Linked DNA regions of Homo sapiens: regions 1, 3 and 4 are each linked to region 2. The links come from fine-mapping of genetic effects on gene expression. A gene starts in region 2. Each other region holds a variant in brackets. All regions are shown on one strand. Distances are between the middles of the regions. Region 1 has its middle 110 kb from the start of GPAT3. Region 2 holds the start of GPAT3 (glycerol-3-phosphate acyltransferase 3). Region 3 has its middle 12 kb from the start of ABRAXAS1. Region 4 has its middle 78 kb from the start of GPAT3.

Region 1 (7,794 bases), 110 kb after region 2:
GTGTGTTCCTCTTAGGTTCAGAGGTAGTGTCTACTCCAGGTCCAATAATCTATTTCCATTAAGAAAAAAACTTGACCACAAAGCCAGTTATTTAATCTATTTTGGATTCACTTAACATACCTTTTAAGATTTCCAAAAGAGACAAATCCTGTAAGTGTCTTATTTTATTGAGTTAAACACTTGAAAGCTATTTATTCATTTAAATCAGTATTTTGAGTAAGTGTTTATATGAGCCCCTAATATTTGTCAGGTATCATTTTAGGTGCTAGGAGTACATCCCTCATTTCTCTGAACTTAAAGACATGAGCAAATAACTAAGCAGTAAGGGGCTGTAATTGCAGTATTAATTGCATGTATGTTCTATTTGTACCATTTTTACAGAATTGTATGTATTTTACAGGTGGTATTTATGAAAATTGAAACCATAGAAATAAGAGAATCTCACTGATACAGAGAACAGGGATAAATAGAACCTCAAAGAGTTAGAGTTATTATTAGGACCAATTTTAAGTTGGAAGATACTTGGCAACAGTTTGTCAAAAATGATGGAACCGTTTTCTTCCTTTTCCTAGTTTATGTGGACTTTTGTTCTAGCAAATTTTGGTTTGTGCATTTGAGGGCCAATTACTCATGAAGCAGAATATTTGAGTCCATTTGCTTTATTCACTAACTGGTTGTCCTACTGGCATTTCTAATTTAAAACACATTGAATGACCTCCTAAGACAAACATCTAGCTTAATGATTAGAGGGAAGGATTGGACAGTACTTCAGAGCATGAGTTTTGACATAAGTGTCACCAAGGTGGGCCGGGCACAGCGGTTCACACCTGTAATCCCAGCACTTTGGGAGGCTGAGGCGAGCAGATCACCTGAGGTCGGGAGTTTGAGACCAGCCTGACCAACATGGAGAAACCTCGTCTCTACTGAAAATACAAAATTAGCTGGGCATGGTGGTGGTGCGCCTGTAATCTCAGCTACTCGGGAGGCTGAGGCAGGAGAATCGCTTGAACCTGGGAGGCGGAGGTTGTGGTAAGTCGAGATTGCGCCATTGCACTTTAGCCTGGGCAATAAGAGCGAAACTCTGTCTCAAAAAAAAAAAGAAAAGTCACCAATGTTTACTCCTGGCTTCACTCTTATTAGCTCTGTGACCTTCAGCAAGAGTCTTAGCTTTCTTAGTTTTCTCATTTAAGTAGTGGTACTCAACTTGTACTAGTACTCAACTTGTAAGGTCATTGTGAGTGTTAAATAAATATGTCACCGTATTAGCATATAGTAAGGGCTATATACATGTTGAAAGAATAATTAGAAAAAAGTGAAGCCTTTCTTAAGTGCCTTTTAAAAGTAGGCACTACATGGCTAAAATCCATTTATTAATGCTATAGAGACTTGATTATTGTTCATATAATTGATTATTGTTTGTTCATATAATTGATTACTGCTGTCTTAATTGGGGACCAGTGTCACTCAGAAAGAGTGTTGACAGTATGGAAATTACAAAAGATGTTGTTTTTATTTACTATGTTGAATGGTGGTATGAGGGAATCACTGGACTAGCAAAACTCTCTTAAAGTTTTGACATGGGATGGAGTGTGTGGTGGTGGGGACCCTTTTTCCCACTGTTGAGGTTTTATTCTTGTGGAGGGAGCTCCACTAGTCTAGGATTTCTGGATGATGTGTGTTCCTCTTAGGCTCAGACATAGTGTCTTCTCTAGGTCCCTTCCTTGGTGTTTTTATGCCCCTTCCTTGCTCCTTTCTGGAAGATACGTCACTTATCTGACTGGTGAATGTGGAAGGAATAACTGACCAAATGGCTCAGCCTCTTCCCTTTTTCTCTTGGGAGGAGCCTGTCTTCTGGAAGCTTGCATTCCACTCTGATCATCCTTGTCATAAATGCACCAGGCAGGCCCTGTTTTTCAGAGGCTTGCCCAGTCCAGTGGTGCTTGGGATTCAAAAGATAAGCAGTGGCTGGGTGCGGTGGCCCACGCCTGTAATCTAAGCACTTTGGGAAGCTGAGGGAGATGGATTGCTTGAGCTCAGGATTTTGAGACCAGCCTCGGCAACATGGTGAAACTCCATCTCTACGAAAAATACAAAAATTAGCCAGTCTTATAACCAGGTCTCAAAAAAATAAATAAAAATTTAAAAAGACCAGCAGTTTAATTCTTGAGTGCAATGTGATCTACTTGCCTAGAGACGTAGCCTCATTTTTCAATATTAACAATGTGATATCTATTCTCCTAGCTGCCTTATTCTTTGGTCGGATTTCTTAATTGCCTCACAACATTTGTGAGAAAGATGAATGTCATTTACCAAGCCTGTTGAAATCCCAGCAGTCCTGTTAACAATGAATTGTGCACATTCTACTGGGGACTTCCTTCCTTTCCTTTCCTTCCTTTCCTTCCTTTCCTTCCCTTTCCTTCCTTCCTTCCTTCCTTCCTTCCTTCCTTCCTTCCTTCCTTCCTTCTCTCTCTTTTCTTTTCTTTTCTTTTCTTTTCTTCTTCCTTTCTGTCCTGAATCTCGCACTGTCACCTGGGCTGGAGTGCAGTGGCGCAATCTCAGCTCACTGCAACCTCTGCCTCCTGGTTCACGTGATTCTCCTGTCTCATCCTCTTGAGTAGCTGGGATTACAGGCACACACCACCACACCCTGCTAATTTTTGTATTTTTAGTAGAGACAGGGTTCACTGTGTTGGCCAGACTGGTCTCAAACTCCTGACCTCATGATCCGCCCGCCTCGGCCTCCCAAAGTGCTGGGATTACAGGTGTGAGCCACTGTGCCTGGCCAGGGACTTTCTAAGAGCCTGAGTGGAATACACTTCAGAATTATCTATTGAAGGGCAAGGGAGCTAGGGTGTCTATCCACCAACTCCTGTCCCTCACTGGCTGAGGGTTGCTTAATTCCCTGGTACTTTTAGCTTGCCCATTTTGTCGCTAGCAGAAGTCCTCGGCCAGAGAAATGCAGGTGTTTGATGCGGGAAACCAAGAATAAGATGAGAACAATCTACTGAAGCGCCAAGTAACTTTCAGTGTGTCCTGGGGAATGGTTGGGGCACTCACAGTGCCAGCGATAAGGTTCTCTGAATTCCCGTTGGCTATGCTAGTACCCTTGCTCTGTGATTCCACAGATGTTTCCTTAGTCAAATCCAGCATTGGATGGGTTTATTCTGTCACCTCAGCTGTAAGCTCTATGTGGGCAGGGACCAGATGCATGCTATTCACTGTGGTATTCTCAAGCCTAGATGATCAGTAAATATTTGTTAAATGTAGCCGGGTGCAGAGGCTCACGCCTCTAACCCCAGCAATTTGGGAGGCAGAGGCAGGCAAATCACTTGAGGTCAGGAGTTCAAGATCAGCCTGGCCAACATGGTGAAACCCTGTCTCCACAAAAAATACAAAATATATATATATATATTTTAGTCGGGCGTGGTGGCACGTGTCTGTAATCCCATCTACTTGGGAGGCTGAGGCAAGATAATCGCTTGAAGCCAGGAGGCAGAGGTTGCAGTGAGCTGAGATCACACCACTGCACTCCAGCCTGGGCAACAGAGTGAGACTCCATCTCAAAAAAAAAAAAAAATTACTTGTTGAATGAATGCTGTGGTCGGGAATGAATAAATGGTCACAGTGAAAAAATCATATGCAATTATTTTTAAAGCTAGTTTTGGTGTTTTGTAAGAAAGTACATTTGCTATACAAAGAATTGTACTGCTGAAACACAGAGACATGAAGTGCATGGTTTGGACCCACCTGATGTTAAGTTTGAAATAAACTTGCCTTTTACAACTTTATGGTCCTAGAAAAAGGGAGATCACATATTTTCCTTTCTTAGCAAAAATTGTTATCAAGGAATAGTTTCCATGAAGGTAAAACAGAGTAAGAGATTTGTTCTATTTGAAGTATTTTAAATAGGTTCTGTTTGTGAAGTTACTTGTCAAAGTTTCTCAACAGGAGAGAGATGGATTTCAGTGCTGAGGATATGATGATGTAATGTGACAACATTGCCAGTAGG[G/T]GGTGCTGTTTCACGTAGCATTAGAAGCTTTATGGCTTTGGATTCTGTAAATAGAGTTCACAACATTATTCTCGAAATGAATTAGATTAGTTTCCGAACGGTTGATAGGATTTTTAACGTCAGACAGGCAATAAAAGAGAAAGCACCAAAATCAGTCACCCCACTCCATAAGCAAAAAAGTCTGAGGGAGATAAAATCTGTAATTCATACAACTGCAGCCAATATGGGGAAGAAATAATAAAAAAGAAAAAAATGGCTAATTCCAAGTTGATTATATGCTCCAGTGTGGCCTGGATAATTCCAGTTTTGAAATACTATTCTGGATGGGCACATATGCTGAGAAAAATTCAGATATAATGGATAGTGGATAGTTTTTGTTATAGAGTCAAGAGTTGCTTGAATAGATAGCTTTAAGATGAACTGGGAAGTGCTGGGCTTAACTTTGTGAATTACCACATATGAAATACAATTATGCTCACAAATTACTATATTTAAAAACAGCTCACAAAGTAATTCTCATACTCCTGCATTTATAACTTGACAAACTGCTGAGCTGTCTTAATATTTCAATTGAATCTAATAAACACTTACTGGGGGTCTACTGTGTACCAGGCAGTCTGCCAAGCACTGGGAATCCACAAATTTTAGTAAGACAGAGCCCTCCCTTTGAGATTAGCCTTTAGCCAGGGGTTTTTAGGCCTTATAGAGACACTGCTTCTTTTCCATCACAGCCAAAGAACTCAGTCCAAGAGCTGTGGTGCAAGGAGAGGAGTGGTTGTTCCCTGCCTCCATGGTCTTCCTGTAGCAAGGTCTCTGCTCCTCTATACGAAGACCTTGTTTAGTCTGGAGGCAACCAAGAAGTAAGAATTGCCAACACACTGGTTATTCCTCTTGCATCACTCCTTTCAATGCAGAGGGAAGAACTACGGTCATTTTAGATGTTTATCAAAATCCAGTTAATAGATTTAAAAAGGATTATCATTCATCATACCTAAATGTCATAATCACTCCCTTTTCCAGGATGCCCGAAGAAGGCTCAAAGACACAGTGAAATGGCCAAAATAATATTCTAGGACTAGCCTAGAATATTCTAGTCTTCTCGCAGGTTCTAAAATGACAGCTCTAGTGCCAGGACACTAACACGACTGCCCCGAGATTTACCCCTTCCTCTCCCTCCAGAAACATTTGAGACGACAAAAGTTTTCCCATGCAGCAGCAGAAAGCTATCCAATTACTTTCTGGGGAGTGAAATCTTTTAGAAGACACGAACATCAAAGATTTTGAAATGGGGTCAAAGAACAAGGGTGTCTTTGGAAACACACAGTCCTGGTCTGGATTCCAACCTAATTTTTCAGCCGTGTGATTTTGGGCAATTTACTAAGCCTTGGCTTTCTCCCTTAAAAACAGGAATTATCATTCCTAGCTCTTAAGATTGTTGCAAAGTTTGAAATAGGATAATCTATGGAAAAGCACCTATAATAATTCCTGGCATGGTGGGCATCCTAGAAAGTGTTAGGATTCTCCCTTCCTTCTTTGGAGGGGATATTGGTCATCAGTTATGTGATCATCAAACCACATGTAAGCATGTTTAGTATCCAAGCCATGTCATCAACACAGACCCATCGTTTCCTCCTGACCTGCTACTAATGCCCCTTATTTTGATAATAATGTCAATACGCTCTTTCATGGTAAAGTCAATGAACAGCTATGATCATGAGGGCTAATTCTGAAAGCATTCATAGGCAAATCCAAAGCAGGAAGAGGCTATTTATATTTTTCCTTAGTTTTCTTATAAGAGGCGTACCTGAAAGCTGGCGTTCTGAAAGAAACTGATTAAATGACGCATCATTTTGATGCATTCCAGAGCCTTCCCCTTGTTTCCTGTGTGATTCTCAGCCTGCCAGCTCAAGTGAAGTGAGGAACAGCTTCTCTTCATATGCCATGCACAATATGGGAGCACAGCAGCTTTTGCTGCTGATGAAAATATTATGGCCTCAGTTCTCTGTAATCAATTTACTGCTTTATGGACCCAAAGTCCTCCAGAGAATTTAATAAATTCACATAATGTTTCTAAGTGCTGCATTGTGCATTTGGAGCGCTGATTTAGCTGACAAATGTGAAAAATTCGTGTAGCTAGACAACTCCCTAGTGATTAGACATGTGTGGAAGCTAAAGAGACCACGTTGCTCCAGAGAAGGTCAGCATTAACATAAAGCCCAGAATCTTCTCTTCACTAGCCTCATGTCCCTTCAGCTCTGATGGATAACACCATCTGACCAAACATTTATTTGGGGGGTAGGGTTTTACTCATTTCCAGTGGGGCTGTACTTTTGATTCTCTAAAAGTCTGCTCTGGTCTAGGCAGAGTGAAGAATGACAAAGTTAAAGGTGATAGTGTAATGTGTGACTAGGGTGGCACCTACGGATTCAGAGGATGAAATGGTCACTAAGTTATGCACGTTTGACCCTGAGGGATGCCAGAGGTTTCTAAGGGAGCATTTTGTGGGACAGCAGCACAGAGTCACTTGTTTAAAACCAGTTCCATTTAAAGTTATATTAACTCTTTCTGCACATCTCTCTCTTCCATTCAAATTTCTTTCCAAATGTAAACAGATTTACCAAAAATAATTATTAAACCACTTTATTACTCAAAATAATCTTCTATCTTTACTAATGTACATATAAATATTCTGCATCATGATAACCAATCGATTACATTGTCCTAACAATGCCATTTTGTATTCCCCTTTTCCTCTTTAATGTTACTTCATACAAACAACAAAAGCGTTATTTTGTGTCCATCAAAGTGGGCCACAGAGCTGTTGTTTCAAATAGGTTTTTAGTATTTAATTTCTGGTGCTGTATTGTTACAGAGACCATCATTATTCAGAATTACTGCAGGTTTTACTGTTAATTTTAGCTTGAATTTTGGTTTTCAGCTCAAGCAAAGATTTAAGATTTACCTTGAGTTCTCAAATTAGGGGCAATCTGCAATGGATATGGGGCCTAGAGATGTTGTAATAGCCCGTGTAGAAACAAGCTGACGCCTGTTGCACCTCCTATCCTGGTGATGGATGACCCAGCTGATACCTCTACTCTGGCAGGCTCTGAGCACTGGATGAGTGACTGTGGACTCTCTCCTGGGGGACCCAGAAGGTTTGGAGCTGCTCCTATGGCTCTGGATCTGGGTAGAGACACCCAGATGCTTCACTGATGAAAAGGGAATGCCACTTCCTGTATTTGGATACTGTAAGCAATGCTTGACAGGTGATCTTTCTACCACTGTCAAAACAGCCGAAGAGTTGGGGAAACAAAATGTGGTCAAGTATTAACAATCAGAGATAGAATGGGAATGAATATTCCTGTTCATGAAAGACTCTGTAAAACACTTAAAGAGGTATATTCTGAGCCAATATGAGTGACCGTGGCCTGGGGAACTGTATCAAGAGGTCCTGAGAAAGTGTGCCTGAGGTGGTTGAGTTACAGTTTGGTTTTATACATTTTAGGGAGACCAGGAGTTACGGGCAAAGACATAAAATCAATACATGGGAGGTACGTATTGGTTTGGCCCAAAAAGGTGGGAAATCTTGAATAGGGGGTGGTGCTTACAGGCCACAGGTGGATTCAAAGACTTTTCCGATTGACACGTGGTTGAAAAACTTCAGCTTTGTCTAAAGACTTGAAGTCAGCTGAGCCTAGAAGGCCTGGAAAAGGAAGGTCTGGCTGCATTGATGGAGATTCTCTACAGATGCAAACTTCTCCTACAAAAGATGGCTTTGCAGGGGT
Region 2 (7,794 bases):
ACATACACACCTGTACATACATATATATGTAGAGATCAGCTGTTTGTGTGTATATATATATACACACATATATATACATATGTGTATATATATGCATATATATACACATATATACACATATGTATGTATATATATGTGTACATATACACACAGGTGTGTAAGTGTATATATATACAGGTGTGTATATATATTCATAGTTACGGGTGTTAGGACTTGGACATATCTTTTGGGGAGGCATGTATATATATACATGCCTGGATTAATAGGTAAAAAAACAGGATTATGGATAAATTCATTACTAAGCATTGACTATCAACTACCATTTAATACATACTCTCCAATCCCAATAACAACCTCTGCAGGTAGGTGTTATTATCCTCATTTTACAGAGATGGTAATTATAACGGGTTGAATTGCACCTTCCCCAAAAGGTATGTCCAAGTCCTAACACCCCTAACTATGGATATGACCTTATTTGGAAAAAGGGTCTTTGCAGATTAAGTTTAATTCAGGGAAGAATCTCAAGATTAGATCATCCTGGATGAGGGTGGGCCCTAAATCCAGAATAATGTGTCTTTGTAAAAGAAAAGATGGGAAGAAGAGACAGGAAGGTCATGTGAAGACTGAGGCAGAGATGTGTGTGCTGCCACAAACCAAAGAATGCTGGGATCCACCAGAAGCTGGAAGATTCTCCTCTACAGTTTTTGGAGGGAGTGTGACCTTACAGACAGACACCTTGATTTCACACTTCTGGTCTCCAGAACTGAGAGAATCAATTTCTGTTGTGTTAAGTCCTTAAATTTGTGGTGATTTGTGAAGGCATCCCTAGGAAACAAATACAGTAAGTAAAGGGGGTCTTGACTTCAGGGACGGAGAAAGTAGGTTCCTACCTAGGTTTAAGTCTCAAGGAATGGAGGAGGGAGGAGAGGTGAGGAGAGTGAAAGAGAGACAAGGAGAGCGGCAAGTCGGGACCAACTTTCCCCGACTTGAGACAGGGTCAGGATCACCCTACATTTCTTCTCTTCCCTCACCCTCCTCCATCACTGCAAAGATGAGCCTTTGTTACCCTGGGGAGCCTGTGTTGGCTCTCCTGCCTTTTAGGCAAGAAAAAGATGAAGAGTTTTTGCCCTTGCACCAGGCTGCCTGCTGATCTCTGCATAGAGCTTTGTCATTTACCATGCAGTTTCATGCTCACAATCACTTTCAACCCTGAGAAGAACCCATCTTCCTGATGAGAAAGGTGAAGCACAGAAGCACTTGCTCAAACTTATATGTGTTCGTGCTGCTCTCAATCGAAGACTCCAAATTCCATTTTATTACCATTGCACCATACAGCTGTGGACGAATAATTCTTCCGTAACAGTTAAAACAAAACCAAACCAAAACCATTTTGTGGAGTTTGTTCATGAGCACCAAAAATCACTGGAGAGTGTGTGCACTCAGCACACGCAAAGTTGTGTGTATTATCTCCCTTGTGGGGTAAACTTTGGTACAAGGATTTAGCCTTCCTTAGTTATCTTGGTTTGAGGAAATAAAAGGAAAATAAGAGTTTTGCCTGAACATATGGTGTTAAATATGCCAATATAATATTTGAAGTTTTGCACTCAATATATATAGTGTTTGAAAGCAAGGACTTTGGGCAGCTTTCGGTAGTTGCGTTTTCCGTGTTTTTCTAAACTAGCCAACCTTACAGAGGTTTAATTTTGAGAAACCAAGCTCCTAACACTTCTTCATTCATAACCCTTTTTTTTTTTTTTTAGACTGAGTCTCACTCTGTCTCCCAGGCTGCAGTGCAGTGGCACGATCTCGGCTCACTGCAACCTCCTCCTCCCGGGTTCAAGTGATTCTCCTGCCTCAGCCTCCTGAGTAGCTGGGACTACAGGCGTGCGACACCACGCGGGGCTAATTTTTTTGTATTTTTAGTAGAGACGGGGGTTTCGCCATGTTGGCCAGGCTGGTGTTGAACTCCTAACCTCAGATGATCTGCCCGCCTCGCCTCCCAGAGTGCTGGGATTACAGGCGTGAGCCACCGCGCCCGGTCCATAACCTGGTTTTAATCATCAAGTTATAATTTTTTCCGTTCTTAGTGTGGGAGGGGGCTTGTGACAGCTACCTGGCAGTAAGTACTTAAGGCAGACATCTACATTCTTTACAGAGGGGCTTGTCACTTCGTTGGCTCCCCACTTCCTCCACACCCTGGGCAGGGACCATTTTCTCTGCAATATTTGCTATCAGCGCTGTTTCAATTCAGTTTGCTGGCCCTCTCAGTTTTTTTCCAGCTTGAAACAACACCTGAAAAGTACCTGTAAGAGATTTTGGTCGAATTCAGCGGCAATCTGGAAAATCCCTTCTCAAAATCCCTTCTGCTCATTCTTAAAAATAGTTCTGGTCTCTAAGAGAACAGCAATGTAGTAAATAACATACAGGGTTTTGCCCTTCGTTGCTCTGATAAGGGCTGGCGCGGTAGAAGCGCGGAGCCTGAACACCCAGGAGACACCTGTCAGCTTGGTGAATGAAGGCTTGCGCCGGCCTGGCATTTCTGCTACGCCTAAGCGCGGATAGTATTGGCTGAATGGTAGGGGAAGGTGTGGTTGGAATCTTCCCCCAGAAAGGGAGTGACAGATACTTAGCCGCAGGGTTTCTGTGCCAGGGAGATGGCGGCTCAGTGGGCTAGGCAACGCGTGGAGAGAGCTTCCTACTCTCGGGATAAGCAAGATTGAGCCCCACAGCTGTAGGCCATGTGGGGAAGGAGGTGTGGAAGCCAGAAGCGGCGTACACGGCTGCGTGGTGCGCTCTGCGTTTTCCTGTCCTTGGAAGCCCTTTCCAAGAGTTCGTTTTACACCCACACAAACAAGACCTCAAGCGTCCCAGATACGTCAGCAGTTCATTCTGCGGGTGAAGAAAATATTGACATTTTTCAGATGAAAACTCTCCTCCTGAAAGGACCTTTGCTGAGTGCTGGGGGAGGCGGGGCGCGGGGAAGAACGGAGACCGCCCAGGAGGCTGCGGCACTCCTGGGCTAAGTACTGCCAGGGAGCTCCCCCGTTGGGTGACGGAGGAGGTGGGGCGAGGGCAGCGCGCAGAAATAGGGCGCTGGGCGCCCGAGCGCAGCCAGCTTCCAGCACAGCCCGCGGCCCGGTGCCAGCTCCGCCGGCGACCGGTGTGCCAAAGTGCGGTGCTCCCGCAGGGAACCTGGCTCGGGGAGGGCCTCCGTGAGTCATCTGCTGAGTTGTCGCAATCGCCACCCAGAGGAAATCAGGCACCGGGCGGGGCGGGTTCCTGGCTGCGCTCGCGCGCTCTGCCCGCGCCGCGGTGTGCCTCCGCTTACCCGCAGCTCCGACCACTGGCTCGCGCTACCCAGGTCTCCGCACGCCGCGGTGGCTTCAGCCCAGACCTGGGCAGCCAGCGGAGAAAGAGTTAACTGGCAGGGGCGAGGAGGAGCCCAGGGAGGAAGGAAGGATATTGCCGTAATTCTGAAAGTTTTTTTCCTTCCTCTCTTCCCTTCGCAGAGGTGAGTGCCGGGCTCGGCGCTCTGCTCCTGGAGCTCCCGCGGGACTGCCTGGGGACAGGGACTGCTGTGGCGCTCGGCCCTCCACTGCGGACCTCTCCTGAGTGGGTGCGCCGAGTCATGGAGGGCGCAGAGCTGGCCGGGAAGATCCTTTCCACCTGGCTGACGCTGGTTCTCGGCTTCATCCTTTTACCTTCGGTCTTCGGAGTGTCTCTGGGCATCTCCGAGATCTACATGAAGATCCTAGTGAAAACTTTAGAGGTGAGTGCCGGGAGGGATGCAGCCAGCCCCACACCGCTGCGGGCTGAGAACCCGGGGGTCCAGTTCTCAAGGTCAGTGGTCGCGAGTCAGGGGTGTGTGTGCGCGCGTGTGCATGCGTGCGTGCATTTCTGTTCCTTGCCCGCAGCAGTGCGAAAGTCAGCATCTCGGCTTCTTTCGCGGAGCTGGAGGGATCTAGGCTGGAACCACTGGACCACTCTGTTGTTTCTCTGGTCGAAGGCGAAAAAATCATTCCACTCCCTGAGCATCGTTATTATTTTACTGATTAGAATAACAACAATGCGACCAACTTTTTGTATCAGAGGATTTGCTTATATCCATTATGCAGTGCAGTTTCCGCTTCACCCGCTTGTTTTTACAGCCCCAGGTTTCAGAGGTCCTTTTGTGTACTAAGGCATCCAGTTCAGAAAGGCATCATGTTCTTCTTTATGCCCAAGATAAGAGACCAATTGCTGGATGGCAGAAAGAAATCTTATTTTATTTTAGTGGAGTCATGGAAATTTTATCTAACCAACAGCACTTGAAATGCCATTGAAAAGGTATATATTCTTTGACCTCAGGTCTCCCTACCCTCCTGTTTCCAAATCCTGCAAAGAAAAATGTTAGATGGAAGTAGGCCTGGTAGAGAACAACTGCAGCTTACTCTTAGGGTTTTATTAAGTGTCAAAAGGCTGGGTAGGGTAGGGAGGGCAAGTGCCAACCCCCTTTTACAGAGAGGGAAACTGAGAGTCAGAGATCAGTGGTTTCTTTGAATTAAGTGTTAGAAGCAGGAGTCTTTTTTTAAAAAAAAATTTAATTATATGTATAATATGTGTGTGTGTGTGTGTGTGTGTGTGTGTGTGTGTATATTTAACATAAGAGACAGGGTCTTGCTATCTTGGCTAGGCTGGTCTTGAACTCCTGGCCTCAAGCAATCTTCCTGCCGTCACCTCCCAAAGTGCTGGGATTAAAGGTGTGAGCCCCACGCCTGGCCAGAAACAGGCATCTCAACTGAGAAGAGGCCCTGCAGCCTAGTGGTTAGGATTAGGGACCCTGGATACAGGTTTGCTTAGATTTGGTACCAAAATTGTAGCTCTGTTTCTCAAAATGTGACCTTAGGGAGGTCATCTACTCTTGTGCCTCATTTTCTGTATCTATAAAATAGGAGTAACAATAACTCCTATTTCCATAGGGTTGTTCAAATGAGTTAAAAGGTATCAAGCACCTTAGAAGGCTGCCTGCACCTACTGTATGAATGCTTGTTGCTATTAAAAGAATAATATGATTACTGAGATTCTGGCATTCCACAGTGCCTTCTAATAAGTTTGGTTCCCATTTTTGTGACCTGTTTTCTCTCTGCCCTTAGGACGTGGCTTTATCTGCTCTTCTTTCTCAGCTAATTGGGTGGCTCCCAGGTATACATCTCTAACCCACTGGACATTGTCTTGTACTTGCTAGCCTCCTGTATTGCCCTAGACTCTTGTTTGTGGCTATTTCTTTGCCTAGACTTTGAAGTTGTATGTGATTCTTCATCCTCAGTGCTCATGTTTTTAAAGTTCTACTGTTTCTACTTGGGAGCTATTTCTCAGTTTTGAACTCTTCTTATTGACTTTACATTCTGAGCTTGGTCACATTATGCTGTGAATTTCTTGACTGCTTCCTAATGTGAGATCTTCAGAATCCTCTCCCATAGCAGATGATCCTCTTCAGCTGGTGTTCCCTCTTTCTCTGAACTCTGAAATGATTGAACTGCTCTCTCATACAGCAATGTCTTTTGGAATTTATACCCTGTGTAAGAATGGTGTAAAGGTAAATCACACCCACTGGCTTCCAGGGGCTCACTTCTGTCTGTTTTTCTTTAGTAACTCAAGGTCAGCTAAGGACGGAGGCCAGCTAGTTGCTGTCAGCCTGGCAAATTATTATACCTGATAGGATGATCTCCAGTCCAGGATCTGACTTTCAGTTTGACAGGCCAGAGATTTTAATTTTTGTCCTTCTGGATAACTCCAGAGCTGAACTCCTTGTCAATCAAACTGACAAGAATGCCAGTTTTCTAATTCTGGTGGGAGAAACCAGATAACTTGGAAACCAGGTAGGTGACACATCAGGAACCCACCCTGTCTGCTGAGACTAAGTTATTAGGTCAAAGAGATGCTTGATATATGTGGAATTTGAATACAGATTCATTGTGTGAGCCAGCTCTGATTTGTTGGTTGCGGCTGCCTGGAACTCCTATGTTTGGGAGCATCTGAGCTCATCAGGAAAGAGAGCTGTGATCCCATAGTGATTTCTGCTTTAGGTGCAGGAGAACAGTAACCCAGGATCCTCTATCCTTCAACTAGAACAGTGTTAGATGTTTCAAAGACATTTCTGTTAGACTGGGGTTAATACGGTGGATTGCTTTTCTCAACTATAGGAATAATTCCTTAAGGGATTATGCTGATGTTTAGCATTAGAACATCTTCAGTGCTGGCCAAATACCCTGCCTTTCTGTAGATTGCATTCAAGGCCTAGCCCTTGTATCACTCCTTGGTAAATTCTTAATTGATTTAGTTGTATTTTTCTTTACATTTCATTCCCAAGAATATTCTTTGGGCTCTGATCATAATTGGATATTTCTCAAGTTTCTTTGCTTATAATTTATGTACCATTTAAAAAGATCATTTAGTTTTGTCTATTATATGTTTACTTTGACAAGTTTTACTGTCAATGGGTGACTTTCTCATGACAATAAACTCAAATTCTAGAAGTTGAAATGTGTGTAGGGTACCCTCTAAATTGCTGATTTTGGTAATTGTTACTTGTTAACTCACTGAACTTTATGCTCTTCTCTGACTCCTTCTTAACCCACTGGTTCAAGTAATTATCATTTATTGAGCACCTACTTCTATTTTCTTCTGCATTGCTGGGTATCTCTAGATGTATGCGTAAGTCACTGATATGGCAAGATACTTGAGGATAAGCCTTGAATACTTAGCTTGGAATAAGTTTAGTGATTCTCCAAGCCAGTGATTTTCAAGGGATATATGATAATTTGTTGGATACGTATGTTAATATTACAGCTTTATAGTCGAGAAAATTGTTTTAGGAATACAAATTATGAAGAGTAAAACTTGGCCAGGTGCGGTGGCTCACGCCTGTAATCCCAGCACTTTGGGAAGCCGAGGCAGGTGGATCACTTGAGATTAGGAATTTGAGACCGGCCTAGCCAACATGGTAAAACCCCATCTCTACTAAAAATACAAAAATTAGCCAAGCATGGTGGTGTGCACCTGTAATCCCAGCTGCTCAGGAGGCTGAGGCTGAGAATCACTTGAACCCGGGAGGCAGAGGCTACAGTGAGCCAAGATCACGCCACTGCGCTCTAGCCTGGGTGACAGAGCAAGACTCCATCTAAAAAAAAAAAAAAAAAAAAAAGAAATCAGACTTAAAGCCATTTCTTTTTGGTGAATTTTGGACAGCTACCTTTTTCCCTCCAAGAGGATTTGGAAATTAGGTGGAAAGAGAACTTGGTTGATAAGTATCTTTCAACTTTCCTTGGGGGGCAGAGAATGTGGGTTGTTAGAAGCCACTTTTGTACTTTAGGACCATTTCGCTGACAGAGCTGCCTCTTTTGTGATGCCTTGAGACAGATATGTTCTGAGATACCCCTGTAAGAGATTCAGAACATCTGAAAGAGATATTCTGTCTTTGTATTTGGGTGGATCTGATTGGCTAGAGAAGCTGGCATGGTAAAAGAGAAATAGCTATTTATGGGGAGAAGCACTGGACAGTCTGGAAAAAACTGGCCATTGCAGAGGCCTAAAATATGGAATATAGGGAAGAGGAGGCTACTTTGTGGCCTACTGTGTGGTAGGCAGCAGCTACATTATCTCTTTTGGCCTTTATGGCCACCCTTGGTATTGTCCCTGTTTTATTTTTATTTTATTTTATTTCTTTTTGTGAGACAGAGCCTCGCTCTGTCACCCAGGCTGGATGGAGTGCAGTGGCACAATCTTGGCTCACTGCAACCTCCCCCTCCCGGATTC
Region 3 (7,794 bases), 40 kb before region 2:
TCTTTTTGGTTTTGAAACAAGGTTTCACTTTGTTGTCCAGGCTGTGGTGCAGTGGCACGATCATGGTTCGCTGCAGCCTCAACCTCCCTGGGTTCAGGTGTTTCTGCCCCTTCAGCCTCCTGAGCAGTTGGGACTACAAGCATGCAACACCACACCAGGCTAATTTTTGTAGCAATAGGATTTCGCCATGTTTCCCAGGCTGATCTCCAACTCCTGGGCTCCAGCAATCGTCCCACCTTAGCCTCCCAAAATGTTGGGATTACAGGTGTAAGCCAACACGCCGGGCCCAGAATTTATCTTAAAAGAGTGGAAACAGCCAGGTGCGGTGGCTCACACCTGTAATCTCAGCCCTTTGGGAGGCCAAGGCGAGTGGATCACCTGAGGTCAGGAGTTTGATACTAGCCTGGCCAATGTGGCAAAACCCTGTCTCTACTAAAAATACAAAAAATTAGCCGAGAGTGGTGGCAGGCATCTGTAATCCCAGCTACTTGGGAGGCTGAGGCAGGAGAGTCACTTGAACCCAGGAAGCAGAGGTTGCAGTGAGCCGAGATCGTGCCACTGCCCTCTAGCCTGGGAGACAGAGCAAGACTGTGTCTCAAAAAAAAAAAGAAAAAAAAAAGAAAAGAAAGAAAGAAAGAAAGAAAGAAAGAAAGAAAGAAAGAAAGAAAGAAAAAAAAGGCCATGCGTGGTGGCTCACGCCTGTAATCCCAGCACTTTGGGAGGCCGAGGTGGGCGGATCACAAGGTCAGGAGACTGAGACCATCCTGGCTAACATGGTGAAACCCTGTCTCTACTAAAAATACAAAAAATTACCTGGGTGTGGTGGCATGCACCTGTAGTCCCAGCTACTCAGGAGGCTGAGGCAAGAGAATTGCTTGAACCCAGGAGGTGGAGGTCGCAGCGAGCTGAGATCACGCCACTGCACTCCAGCCTGGGCGACAGAGCAAGACTCAATCTCAAAAAAAAAAAAAAAAAACAACATTGTGGAAATGGCCGGTGGCCCAGGCCTGTAATCCTAGCACTTTGGGAGGCCGAGGCCAGGAGTTGGAGACCAGCCTCACTAACATGGTGAAACCCCATCTCTATTAAAAATACAAAAATTAGCCAGGCATGGTGTCAGGCGCCTGTAATCCCAGCTACTCCAGAGGCTGAGGCACGAGAATCGCTTAAGCCTGGGAGGCAGAGGTTGCAGTGAGCTGAGATTGCACCACTGCATTCCAGCCTGGGCAACGGAGTGAGACTCTGTCTAAAAAAAAAAAAAATATATATATATATATATATATATATATATATATATATATATAAACATGTATATATATATATAAACATGTTTATATATATTTTTTATATATGTTGATATATATGTTTATATATAAATATTTTTAAAAATTATATATAATTTTTATAAATATATTTATATATATATTTTTAAAAATTATATATAATTTTTATAAGTATATTTATATATAAATATGTATAAATTATATATAATTTTTATAAGTATATTTATATATAAATATATATAAATTATATATAAATATTTAAAAAATATATAAACATGTTTATACATTATATGTTTATATATATTTTATATATAGTTTTTATATTTTTATATATAAATATATATTTATGTTTTATATATAAACATATATAAAATATATAAACACATATATAATATGTATAAACATATATATAAAAAACATACTTAAAAAAATTAAATTTAATTATAAAAAGATACTGAATGGGCTGGATGTGGTGGCTCACGCCTGTAATCCCAGCACTTTGGGAGGCCGAGGTGGGAAGATCAGTTGAGGTCAGGAGTTCGAGACCAGCCTGGTCAACACAGTGAAACCCCATCTCTATTAAAAATACGAAAATTAGCCTGGTATGGTGGCACACTCCTGTAATCCCAGCTACTAGGGAGGCTGAGGCGGGAGAATTGCTTGAACCCAGGAGGCAGAGGTTGCTGTGAGCCAAGATCGCTCCACTGCACTCCAGACTGGGTGACAGAGCCAGACTCTGTCTAAAAAAAAGAATACTGAATGGATAGAAGCTAAAAATGCTACAAAACTCATCTAATTAGTTGCTGTCAATATTACATGTTTTTTTCGTTTTTTAAAAAATAATAATTGTATACATTCATGGGCTACGTAATGTTTTTTTTTTTTGGGGGGGACGGAGTCTCGCTCTTTTGCCCAGGCCGGAGTGCAGTGATGCAATCTTGGCTCACTGCAAGCTCCACCTCCCGGGTTCACGCCATTCTCCTGCCTCAGACTTCCGAGTAGCTGGGACTACAGGGGCCCGCCATCGCGCCCGGCTAATTTTTCGTATTTTTAGTAGAGACGGTATTTCACTGTGTTGGCCAGGATGGTCTCAATCTCCTGACCTCGTGATCTGCCCGCCTAACCTCTAAAAGTGCTGGGATTACAGGAGTGAGCCACGGCGCTCGGCCCTACATAATGTTTTAATACAAACAATGCATAGTGATCAGATCAGGGTAATTAGCATATTGGTAATTTCAAAGATTTATCATTTCTTTGTGTTGACAACATTTAATATTGTAAGAATTAAAGAAAGAGGAGAGAAACACAAAGGATGGCTTTTCAGTCAACAGGGGCAGGTTTATTTTAAATAAACCTGAGAAGGGCGGTTGGCTGAGTTAGGTCAGAGCCACACTCTCTAACAGACTAAGAGTTTCTAAAGATTCAGGATAGGAGAGTTTATAAGAGGCTTGGACTGCTTCTGTGTCTCTTTGTTGTGCTTATCTGGGAGGGACAGTTGCGTTTCTATTCCCATACACCTTTTTGCAGCTGCAGGCATATCCCCCAAGTCTGCTTTTAGCTTCTCTATCTTAGTATTCCTGAAGGGAAAGAAAAGTGCTTATTAAGGCCCACTGTCTTACTGGGGCCCATTGTATGAGGGTGAAGTTTGGCAGTTACCCAAGAGACTTTCTCCTCACCTCCCTCTGTTTCCAAGCGGTCTTATCTGTGTTTTACTGTCTGCTCTTTCTGGCTGCTTGTAGTTAGAAGAGAAGTGATTTCCTTGAAATGCATGAGGCTAGAAAGGGAGCTGGAACTTAAAGTGGTGGTGTTTGTCCGAGATGACGGTGCTCCTGCTCTAGCAAATATCCTGCCAGGCGTAGTGGCTCACGCCTGTAATCCCAGTACTTTGGGAGGCGGAGGCTGGGGGATCACCTGAGGTCAGGAGTTTGAGACCAGCCTGGACAACATGGTGAAACCCCATCTCTACTGAAAATACAAAAATTAGCTGGGCATGGTGGTGCACACCTGTAATCCCAGCTACTTGGGAGGCTGAGGCACTAAAATTGCTTGAACCGGGGATGTGGAGGTTGCAGTAAGCCAAGATTGCACCACTGCCCTCCAGCCTAAGTGACAGAGCAAAACTCCATCTTAAAACACACACACACACCCACACAAACACACACACACAGAGCAACATTCAATATCCTCTCTTCTAGCTATTTGAAACTATACAACGCATTATTGTTAATTATAAGCAACCTGCAATGCTGCAGAGCACTAGAACTTATCCTCCTATCTAGCTGTAATTTTGTATTCTTTAGCAAATCTCTACCTATCCTCCCCTTCCCAGTCTCTAATATCCTCTGGTTCCACATTTTACTTCTATTAGATCAACTTTTTTTAGCTTCCACATGTGAGTGAGAATATGCGGTATTTAACTTTCTGTTAAGATCATTTGCCTACTTTATAATCAGACGTTTTCTTG[T/C]TTTGTTTTTTGCTATTGAGATGTTTGAACTCTTTGTATCTTCTGGATATTAATCCCCTGTGGGATGAGTAGTCTGAAAATATTTTCTCTGATCCTGTAGGTTGTCTTTTCACTCTCTTGATTGTTTCCTCTGCCGTGCAGAAGATTTTTAGTTTGATATAATCCCATTTGTTTATTTTTGCTTCTGTTGTCTGTGCTTTTGAGGTCTTATTCGTAGAACCAAGCCTGGTGACATATTGATTTTGAACTTAGAGCTTCCAGAACTGTGAGAAAGTACATTTCTGTTTTTTAAGCCACCCAGTCTAATGTAACAATAATATATTTAGATACCTTTTAACTTCTCTCCCTGCCCCCACCAAATATCTAATGGTCAGAATAAATAATAACAGGGAAGACAAACATGTTTTGTTTTGTTTGAGAATGAGATGCACCTGATCACAGTGGATTTTAAGCTCTTTTTGTATATATACTAGGGAATGGCTGGATGTCTTTTTTCATAATTATTATACTAGGATCACATACTAGTTAGTAACTTCAAATAGGGCAGTCAGATAGGCTTCACGTGCCTCCTTCAAGCACCAAAAGCTATACTCTGGAAACTCCAAGATCAGTGTTAAAGTCCTACACAATTTCTCACACCAGATGCTGGATGAGACATTTGAAAAATAAAAGTTTAGTGAACTTCTAACAATGTCTGGTTTCAAGGAATGCCAGAGTGCCAGGCCTGTAGTGATAAGATTTCTTCACTCCCTGCTTGATTTGCAGGCAATCAGCTTAGAAAGAGCTGTGGTATAGAAAACTTGTTCCTTACCAGCCCCCTGCCTTTTGCCTGGAGCTCAGCAAGCTAGAGGTGGCATTGATACCAGAAAGAGATGGCTGAGCAGCTGCAAACACAACTGAGAGAGGATCTGGGCTATGTAAATTTTATTTCAAAATAAATTGCTACCTTCACAAAGTTGTGGAAAAGTTACTGCATTTAGATGTGACAATTAGGCTAGGTGCAGTGGCTTACACCCTAATCCTACCACTTCAGGAGGCCGGAGCAGGAAGATTGCTTGAGCATAGGAGTTAAGAGGCTACAGTGAGCTATGACTGTACCACTGTACTACAGCCTGGGCAATGGAGCAAAAACTTGTCTCTTGGAGAAAAAGAAGGAAAAGAAAAGAGGAGAGGAGAGAGAGAAAGAAAGAAGAGAGGGAAAGAAAGAAAAAGGAAAGAAAGAAAGAAAAAGGGAAGAAAGAAAAAGAGAGAGAGAGAAAGAAGGAAAAAAAGAAGGAAAATGGACTCTCTATGTCCTGTGGGTTCATGCTGAAAAGTTAAAAAACAATAAAATAAGGACAAATTCTTTGATAGCTGTTTAAAGAGACAGAGAGGAAATACATATAATGATCTTATATATTACTGTGTGTGGTAGTTTGTCTGCAAACATGGCCATCAACAATTTCTCCTACCCTATGCACTCATGCTGCTTCTCCCATCAAGTAGTCTATTTTCCCTTCCTTTTAACTGAGGTGGCCTGGTGACTTCCTTTAATCAATACAATGCATCCTGTGTGACTCTGCCACTTCCACACTTAGGCTTTAAGTGTTCTGGAAGCTTCCACCTTCAACATCTTTGAAGTCAGCCACTGTGCTGTACAAAAGCTCAGGCCAGACCACTGAATGATGAGAGCCATGTGGAGAGACACTCTAGAAGATGAGCTTCTCTGGAATGGTTTGGCCCCAGGTGTGCTTCGGGCTGAACATAGCCTCATGAGTGACTTCAAATACAACAAGTGGAGTGGAAGAACCACCCAGCTAAATTCAGTCAACCTACAGAATCAAGAGAAATAATAGATCATTGTTATTTTAAGCTACTAAATTTTAGAGTGATTTTTTTTTTATGAAGCAAGAGAAAACTAAAATATCTTGTGTAAATGTTTATTTTTATTTTTTTGAGACAGTCTTGCTCTGTCACCCAGGCTGAAATGCACTGGCACAATCTCAGCTCACTGCAACCTATACCTCCCAGGTCCAAGCAATTATCGTGCCTCAGCCTCCCGAGTAGCCAGCATTAAAGGCATGCACCCCCATGCCCAGCTCATTTTTGTATTTTTAGGCGAGTCAGGGTTTTGCCATGTTGGCCAGGCTGGTCTTAACTCCTGATGTCAAGTAATCTGCCAGGCTTGGCCTCTCAAAGTGCTGGGATTACAGGCGTGAGCCACTGCACCCAGACTAAATGTTTATGGTTTTTTTTTGTTGGTTTGTTTGTTTTTGAGATGGAGACGCGCTCTGCCACCCAGGCTGGAGTGCAATGGTGCGATCTCGGCTCACTGCAACCCCTGCCTCCCGGGTTCAAGTGATTCTTCTGTCTCCGCCTCCCCAGTAGCCGGGATTACAGGCACATGCTGCCACGCCCGGCTAATTTTTTGTATTTTTCAGCAGAGACGGGGTTTCACTGTGTTGCCCAGGCTGGTCGAGAACTCCTGAGCTCAGACGATCCACCCGCCTCAGCCTCCCAAAGTGCTAGGGTTACAGGCATGAGCCACCGTACCTGGCCATTTATGTATTTTTCAGTCTCCTGAGTGGCTAGACTATAGACATCCACCACTAGTCAGCTAATTAAAAAAATTTTTTTTTGTAGACATGGGGTCTTGGTGTGTTGCCCAGGCTGGTCTGGAACTCCTGGCTTCAAGTGATCCTCCCACCTTGGCCTCCCAAAGTTCTGGGTTTACAGGCATGGGCCACTGTGCCCAGCTATCTGCTGTTCTTAATCCATGAGACTGTGATGATAATTTGGGACATCTGGTCTCCAAAGAGAAAGAAGCTGGATGGCTCATGGCCTGACAATTGATGTAGCTTTACTGAATGCTTTACAGATACGGAAAGCTAAGAGTAATGCAAAACTACAAGGGCTGCATAGTATTCCATGGAGTATATGTACCACATTTTCTTTATCTAGTCTTCCATTGATGAGAGCATGTCCTTTGCAAGAATACGGATGGAGCTGGAGGCCATTATGTTACTGGTGGAAGGTATCTGAGTTACTGGTGGCAAATCTGTATGGGTCTGCAGCAACTTCAATTCTTACCTCCTCAGAAGAAAGAATTCAACTGAGAGGTATAAGGCAGAAAAGGAGACCGAAACAAATTTCAGAGCAGGAGTGGAAGTTTATTTAAAAGGCTTTAGAACAGGAAAGAAAGAAAAGGAGAGTAGGCTTGTAAGAGACCCAAGCAGGCACTGAGATCAAGTGTGGTGTTTAACCTTGACCCTGGAACTTTATAGGCTGGCTTTCCCATGACTCTTCCCTTAGGATGGGCTGCCTACACACACAGCGCCCTCCTTATCTTTGGGTGCACGTGTTTAGGAAGTTGTACACATGCCCATCTGAAGCTTTCTCCCCTTTTTTGGTGGTGTTTTCTTGGAGGGTCATACTCCACCATTTTGTCTCTTAATGCGCATGCCTGGGAAGTTGCTTCGCCCTGGTGTCTGTATTCAATTAACACCTTAGTGCAAAAGGTGTGGACCATCAGGAAATGGCCTCTCCCTGGCACCGGCTGCCAATGTATCACTTTTAGAGAGGTGATGTGATAATTACTGAACCATCATCCACATTCCTAGTGGGTTGGGGAGTCTTCTCCTGACCCCTGCTCATGCCTAACTACCTGTAACAATTATCCTTAGCAAACTAATCCAGGAACAGAAAACTGAATATGCATGTTTTCACTAACAAGTAGTAGCTAAATGACGAGAACACATGAACACAAAGAAAGGAACAACAGACACTGGTGTCTACAGGAGGGTGGAGGGTGGGAGGAGGGAGAGGATGAGGAAAAATAACTAATGGGTACTAGGCTTAATACCTGGGTGATGAAATAATCTGTACACCAAACCCCCATGACACAGACTTACCTATGTAACAAACCTGCACACGTATCCCTGAACTTAAAAATTAAAGTTTTTTATTTTACTTATTTATTTATTTTTTAGACAGAGTCTCGCTGTGTTGCCCAGGCTGGAGTGCAGTGGCGCAATCTTGGCACACTGCGAACCTTTACCTCCCAGGTTC
Region 4 (7,794 bases), 78 kb after region 2:
ATCAGTTGGCTTTAAATACATGGATTTATTTCTGCATTGTCTATTCTGTTTCATTGGTCTATTTTTCTTTTTATGCCAATATCAAGCTGTTTTGGTTAATATAGTTTTGTAGCATATTTTGAAGTCAGGTAGTGTGATGCCTACAGCTTTGTTCTTTTTGTTCAAGAATCATATGGTTTTTGTTTTTCATTCTGTTGATGTGATGTATCACATTTATGAATTTGCATATATTGAGCCATCTTTGCATTCCTGGGATAAATCCAACTTGATCATGGTGTATATTTTTTATGTGCTGTTGAATTTGGTTTGCTAGTATTTGTTGAGGATTTTTGGATCTTTGTTAATCAGATATTTTGGCCTATACTTTTCTATTTTTTATTGTGACTTTGTCCGGTTGTATTATCAGAGCAATGCTGGCCTCATACAATGATTTTGGAAGAATTCTCTCCATTTTAACTTTTTGGAATAGTTTGAGAAGCAGTGAAATTAGTTCTTTTTAAATAATTTTGTAGGATTCAGGAGTGAAGTCATTTGTGCCTGGTCTTTTCTTTATTGGGAGATGTTTTATTACTGGTTCAGTCTGGTTACTTGTAATTATTCTGTTCAGGTTTTTCATTTCTTCTTGGTTCAGTCTTGGTAGGTGGTATGTGTCCAGAAATTTATCCATTTCTGTTAGGTTTTTCTAACAGAAATTAGGAAGTAGAGTTGTTCATAATAGTTTCTAATGATCCTTTGTATTTCTGTGCTATCAGTTGTAATGTCTTTTTTTTCACTTCTGATTTTATATATTTGGGTTTTTTCTCTTTTTTCTTAGTCTAGCTATTCCTTTTCAAATTTTGTTTATTGTTTCAAAAAAGCAGCTTTTTGTTTCATCTTTTTTTTTTGCATTTTTTTGGTCTTAATTTCATTTATATTTGCTCTGATATTATTATTTTCTTCTACTAATTTTGGGTTTGGTTTGTTCTTGCTTTTCTAGTTCCTTGGGGTGCATTGTTATTTATTTGAAATCTTTCTACTTTTTTTGATGTATGTGTTTACTGATGTAAACTTCCCTCTTAATACTGCTTTTGCTGTATCCTATAGGTTTTGGGTGTTGTGTTTCCACTTTTATTTGTTTAAATAAATTTTTAAATTTTCTCCTTAATTTCATCATTCACTCATTGGTCATTCAGGTGCATGTTGTTTCATTTCCATGTATTTGTACAGCTTCTAAAGTTCCTCTTGTTGTTGATTTTTAGTTTTATTCCATTGCGGTCAGAACAGATACTAGATGAGATTTTGGTTTTTAAAAATCTGTTGAGACTTTTTTTGTGGCCTAATGCATGGTCAGTCATAGAGAATGTTCCATGTGCTGATGAGAAGAATATGTATTTTACAGCTGTTGAATGAAATGTTCTTAATGTCTGTTAAGTCTTTTGGTTGTAGTATGTTTAAATTGGATGTTTCTTTGTTGATTTTCTGCCTAGATGATCTCTTCAACGCTGAGAGTGGGGTCTTGAAGTCCCCAACTACTATTTTATTGGAGCCTATCTCTCCTTTTAGATCTAATAATATTTGCTTTATATATCTGGGTACTCTAGGGTTGGGTACATATACATTTATAATTGTTATATCCTGTTGCAAAATTTATCCATTTATCAGTAAATAATAACCTTCTTTTTTTTTTTTTAGACGGAGTCTCGCTCTGTTGCCAGGCTGGTGTGCAGCGGTGCGCTTGGCTGATTGCAACCTTTGACTCCCAGATTCAAGCGATTCTCCTGCCTCAGCTTCCTGAGTAGCTGGGATTACAGGCACGCGCCACCATGCCCAGTTAATTTTTGTATTTTTAGTAGAGACGGGGTTTCACCATGTTGACCAGGATGGTCTTGATCTCCTGACCTCATGATCCACCTGCCTCAGCCTCCCAAAGTGCTGGGATTACAGGCATGAGCCACCATGGCTGGCCCTTTGTCCCTTTTTTTAAAATAGTTTTTTTACCTAATGCCTATTTTATCAGATATAACTATAGCTATTCCTGCCCACTTTTGGTTTCTGTGTAGAATATCTTTTTCTATCCCTTCACTTTTGATTTATGTGTATTTTACAGGTGAAGTGAGTTTCTTGTAGACAGTATATGGTTGGGTCATTTAAAAAAATCCATTCAGCCAGTGTATATCTTTTGATTAGGGGATTTAATCTGTTTAAGTTCAAGATTATTATTGACAGGTGAGGACTTTATTCCTGTCATCTTGTCAATCATTTTCTAATTGCTTTGTATAGCCCCTGTTCTTTTCTTTCTCTCTTATCATTTATCTTTGAAGTTTAGTGGTTTTATGTGGTGATAAGATTTGATTTATTTCTCTTTCTCCTTTGTATGTCTGGTGTATCAGTGAGTTTTATGCTTTCATGTTCTTTCATGTGTTTTCATGATGCTAGTTATTGTTCTTTTGCTGCCAGATGTAGAACTCCCTTAAGCATTTACTTTAAGGCAAGCCTAGTGTTGATGAATTCTCTCAGTTTTTGCTTTTCTGGGAAAGGGTTTGTGGACTTCATTTTTCAAGGATAGCTTTCCTGGGTATAGTATTCTTGGCTGGCAGTTTTTTTTTTTTCTTAATGCACTTTAACTATGTTGCCTCATTCTCTTTGCCCTGTAAGGTTTCTGCCAATAACTATGCTATTAGTCTAATGGAAATTCCCTTGTATGTGACTTGATATTTTTCTCTTGTTGTTTTTAGAATTCTCTTTGTCTTTGACTTTTGACAGTTTGACTATATGCACCTTGCAGAGGACCTTTTTGGGTTGAATCTATTTGGGAATCTCTGAGTTCCTTGGATCTGGATGTCTCTATCCCTCCCAAGACCTTGGAAGTTTTCAGCTATTAATTTATGAAATAGGTTTTCTATGTATTTTCCCATCTCTTCTTGCTATAGTTTGGATATTTGTCTTCCCCAAATTTTATGTTGAAATGTGACCCATCCCCACTAATGTTGGAGGTGGCGCCTATTGGAAGTTGTCTGGTTAGTGGGGGTGATCCCTCATGAATGGCTTCGTCCCCTTCCCATGGTAATGAATGATGGCTTGGTCCCCTTCCCATGGTAATGGATGAGTTCTTACTCTATTAGTTCATACAAGAGCTGGTTGTTTAAGGCATGGCACTCCTCCCATTGCTTTTTTGCTCCCTCTCTCACCATGTGACATGCTGGCACCCTTTGCCTTCCACCATTAGTAAAAGCTTCTTGAGGTTGTCACCAAAAGTAGATGCAGGTATCATGCTTCTTGTACAGCAATAAACCCCTTTTCTTT[A/G]TAAAAGACCCAGCCGCAGGTATTTATTTACAGCAACGCGAAATGGACTTACACACTTCTCCTTTTGAAATTCTCATAATGTGAATTTTTATTTTGCTTTATGATGCCCTGTAAATCCTGTAGTCTTTCTTCATTCTGTTTTATTCTTTTGTTTTTGTTGTTGTCTGCCTGGGTCATATCAAAAGACCTGTCTTCAAGTTTAGAAATTCTTCTGCTTGCTCTGGTCTTTTGTTGAAGGTCTCGGTTGTATTTCTTATTTCATTCATTGAGTTCTTAAGCTCCAAGATTTCTGTTTGTTTCTTTTATTCTATCTATCTCTTTGTTAAATTTCCTATTCAGATCACGAAGTGTTTTCCTGATTTTGTTGAATTGTCTATATGTATCCTCTTGCATCTCACCAAGTTTTCTTAAACTCATTATTTTGAATTTCTTTTTTGGCATCTTGTAAATTGTTTTTGGTGGGGGAGCTGGTATTGGAGAATTATTATGTTCTTTTGGAAGTGTCATGTTTCCTTGCATTTTCATTTTCTTGTATCTCTATGTTGATACCTGTGTATCTGCTGAAACAATTGCCTCTTCCAATTTTATGGAGTACCTTTGGTAGGGAGAGTCATTCCTGTAGGTGAGTCATATGGTGTCAATGGGTAAGTTGAGTTGGCCTTGGTTCTGGGTGGACACAGTAGTGTAGTCTGTTAACCTGTTAAGATTCTTTGGCTATAATCCACATTAATGATCTTTGTGAGTACCTCAGTGGCCTAGGCTGTGAGAATCTATGGTGGCAGTGGTGCATCTTTGCGGGGATGGGACCATTGAGCTTTTTCTCTGGCCAGAGGCATAAGTGTGCAGTGGGTTGGTTGGTTTGGTGACTGGCTTGCTGGGGGTGAATTTTCCATGCAGTTTCGCTGGCCATGGGTGCAGGGATACAGATGCTTGGTGGACCTGGGAGTGGGTCCACCAGGAATGTTTCTGCTGGAGGTGGGTTCACCTTGTTGCTTCTCCAGCTGGGACATGGATGTGCAGTAGTTCGGTGGCTTGTCTCAGGGGCAGGTTTGTCAGGCTGTTTCTTTGGTAGTGAGTGCCAAGAAGGGGGACTTTCTGGGGGAAGGTCCATTGGACTATTTAGTTCAGCCAGCCAAGGGTTGGCTTTCCTGCTGTGCAATGCTGAAGTCATGGCTGTTCCTGGCCCCATGCTCCAAGCAGACAGCGTTGTGGTATTGCAGCCACCTGTGTGGACTTGGTAAAATAATGGCAGAGACTCAAGGCTGGAGACATGCAGTGGCTGCTGGACCCCAGAGCAGGGTGGACTCTAGCAGTGGTTCCAGTTTCAAGATGGCACAGTCCTGCAGTAGCTTGGCTCACTGGGGTTGATTGGGGTGGGGAGTGCACACCTTGTGTTCCTACTCTGGAGTAACGCAGCTATGTTAATTCCAAGCAGCTCCGCAAACTGGGCTAAGGGCTTTTGAGGACTGTGGGATTCTTCTATAGTAAGTACTACAGGAATCTGCAGTGGCAGTTCAGGCATGTGGGGGCCTTCTGCTTACCTTTTTCCCATATGGAGAAGTCCCTCCTGGATCTGAGCCAATCTCAATGGGAGAGATGGGGTGGCAGGGGCAGGGTGCCTTGCTCCCCTCTTTTTGCTGACATCCTGGGCTTCTGTGCTCCACAGGGATTTCACCAGTCCCTTTCTGCACTCCAGTGCTGTCCCTCAGACACTACAGTTGAATGTTAGTTGTTATTTGTTGTTTTGGTTGTTTTTTGTTGGGAGGGATATGTGCCAGGCAACTCTAGTTAACCATTTTGTTGATGTCCTTTATTTCCCTTTGTTTTTTTTATGAGACTGAGTCTCCGTCTGTCATCCAGGCTGGAGTGCAGTGGCACAATCTTGGCTCACTGCAATCTCTGCCTCCTGGGTTCAAGCGATTCTCCTGCCTCAGCCTCCTGAGTAGCTGGGATTACAGGCATGCACCACCACTCCCAGCTATTTTTTTTTGTATTTTCAGTAGAGACAGGGTTTCACCATATTGACCAGACTGGTCTCGAACTCCTGACCTCAGGTGATCTGCCTGCTTCAGCCTCCCAAAGTGTTAGGATTACAGGCATGAGCCACTGCGCCCAGCCTTATTTCTCATTTGTAAGAGTTATATCTAATTCTTTTTCAAATGTGATTACTCTCACATAGTTTTGAAGTACCTTATGCTTATTGATTTTATGTTTTTCCCAACAACTCCAAAATCTTATATCTTTTGAGGGTCTGGGTCTATCTTTTCTGCTGCTTCTTGTTCATAGAGTCTTTGTGTGTTTAGAGAATTTTAATAATTATCATCTTTGGAATTTTATCCTCTCTTAGACCTGGAGAGCAGGGATCAGCAAACCAAAGCTTGTAGGCCAAATCCTGCCCTCTGTCTGTTTTTGTAAATACAATTTTATTGCAAGACAGCATTTGTTTATATATTGCCTATAGCTGCTTTTGCATGACAAAAGCAAAGTTGAGTAGTTGCTATAGTGACCTGCATGGCCCACAAAGCCTAAAATGTTTACTATCTGCTTCTTCATCTGATATGGTTGCCCACCCCAGCTCTAGGGCACTATCAATCTGGTACTACTTTAAACTATATTGTTGGCTTGAGGTTATCGGGCTATGGAAATAGTGAGAATTCAGTCTGTAAATCCAAAGGTGAGCCATTGTGGTTTTGAATGATCTGTGTACTATTTTTAGATAAATCCACATTGTATTTATAAGTAATTCATTCTTTTTAATTGCCAAGTAGTTTTAAATCTTTAGGGGAAAGTTATTTTTCCCTTTCACTTATCAGTAAGGTTTGACACAAGCAATTTGCCTTGCTTACATTTGAGATTGGAGGATGGATTATTTCTTTTTTTTTTCTTTTCTTTTTTTTTTTTTTTGAGATGGAGTTTCGCTCTTGTTGCCCAGGCTGGAGTGCAATGGCGTGATCTCGGCTTACCGGAACCTCTGCCTCCCGGGTTCAAGCGATTCTCCTGCCTCAGCCTCCAGAGTAGCTGTGATTACAGGTGTGCGCCACCATGCCTGGCTAATTTTGTATTTTTTTTGGGTAGAGATGGGGTTTCTCCATGTGGTCCGGCTGGTCTCGAACTCTTGACCTCAGGTGATCCGCCCGCCTCGGCCTCCCAAAGTGCTGGGATTGCAGGCATGAGCCACTGCACCTGGCCCTTTCTACTTTACTGTTACACAGAGGTTATAGTCCTTTGATATTTCACCTTCAAAGGAAGACTGTAGTTAGACTTTCCATCTTGGGCAGGACTTCAATTTTGTTTTTTGTCCCTTAGGCCCTTAAGGCTCTAGAAACCAATGCTAGAGTTTGCCTGGTTCAGCCAATGCCTGCAAAGTAAATGACAACTGCTGGGCTCTCTGCTCTGCTTTTTCCTCTGGGAATCGATCTTCCTTTAGTCTCTGACTTGAGTAGTCCTAACTTTCTTGCTAGTTACAGAAGCATTCAAAATCATTTTCTTTTATCATATAGGAAGAGAGTGAGTTCTTGTTGCAAAAAATAAAAGTTCTAGAAGGAGACAACTTTAAATTTAAAAAGAAGTTTCTCTGAGTGTTTTACTCTAGGTTAAAGCCATTATTTAAATATAAGGAGAAAAGCCTCTCCTTTAGAATCATTACTGTTCATTTGCAAATTAAATGCTGAAAGGTTTTGTAAGATAAAGTGATTTATAGGAGATCTGGACTAACACAGGGAAAACTGGAAGATTTTGGTGTTGGTGGAGAATACAAAAACCCGACAGCAGGAAGTCAGCTGAAAGAAGCCACCAGGTCATTGGTGTTCTTGGCATTGTGGGTGGGTGGTGAGTTTTCAGGCTGCACGTGTTACAGCCTAGGCTGAGGATCCCATCAAGGCTTTTGATGGCCCTCCATGGTCATAAATTCCTGCTATGAGCACTCCCTGCTGTTGTGAGACGCATATAGTAATTCTGGCTACTTGCTGGCCTCTTGGCTCTGTGTCCGGAAAAGATGTCTTGGAAAACTCTGAGAATAAAAAATGTATACTCTATCTTGGTGACCTAAAACATTTCAAATCCGTTTGCCCTCTAAAGCTGTGATCAGGGAGTGGATAGCTCAAAGAGCAGAACCAGTTAGTCTCCTCTCAAGGTGAAATATATATATTTCTTATACAAATAGGTGAATTTAAACTTTTTTGAGAATCTTTGACAATTGTATGTCTTGGCTTAGTTAAGATATATCCTTGCTGATTACACAAGTCAATTAGGGATCACAGGTTAGAGTTGGGCAAGTTTTCAAATCATTGTTTCTCTAGCTTTATAAAGGAAAACACCTATATTTGGTGCTTACAATTCGTATGCTGTTCTAGGTCTGAGGACACAACAATGACAAAGGCAAAAACTCTGGGCTATGGAAATCCACTGAAGCAGGTGGAAAATAAAAACAAAATCAAGAAACATGTTTGGACGAAAACATCATAGGGGATTTAGAGTGCCTTTGAACATTTTTCATGTAAGTTTGGGATAGTA

The links. PIP is the estimated chance that this variant, and not a neighbour inherited with it, causes the effect.
Region 1: its variant is fine-mapped to the expression of GPAT3 in whole blood (TOPMed, PIP above 0.99).
Region 3: its variant is fine-mapped to the expression of GPAT3 in whole blood (TOPMed, PIP above 0.99).
Region 4: its variant is fine-mapped to the expression of GPAT3 in whole blood (INTERVAL, PIP above 0.99).

What each region holds. Positions count from the first base shown.
Region 1 is chr4:83,640,865-83,648,658 of GRCh38, forward strand. No RefSeq gene overlaps it. Among named protein-coding and RNA genes, the nearest start is that of GPAT3, 110 kb to the left of the region's middle. The variant G/T (reference allele first, on the strand shown) is at 4,010.
Region 2 is chr4:83,532,995-83,540,788 of GRCh38, forward strand. It overlaps GPAT3 (glycerol-3-phosphate acyltransferase 3), which reads left to right and starts at 3,114. Exons shown (of 12, transcript NM_032717.5): 1 at 3,114-3,769. The coding sequence starts at 3,629.
Region 3 is chr4:83,493,426-83,501,219 of GRCh38, forward strand. No RefSeq gene overlaps it. Among named protein-coding and RNA genes, the nearest start is that of ABRAXAS1, 12 kb to the left of the region's middle. The variant T/C (reference allele first, on the strand shown) is at 3,748.
Region 4 is chr4:83,610,684-83,618,477 of GRCh38, forward strand. No RefSeq gene overlaps it. Among named protein-coding and RNA genes, the nearest start is that of GPAT3, 78 kb to the left of the region's middle. RefSeq lists enhancers at 7,420-7,794, 7,793-7,794. The variant A/G (reference allele first, on the strand shown) is at 3,283.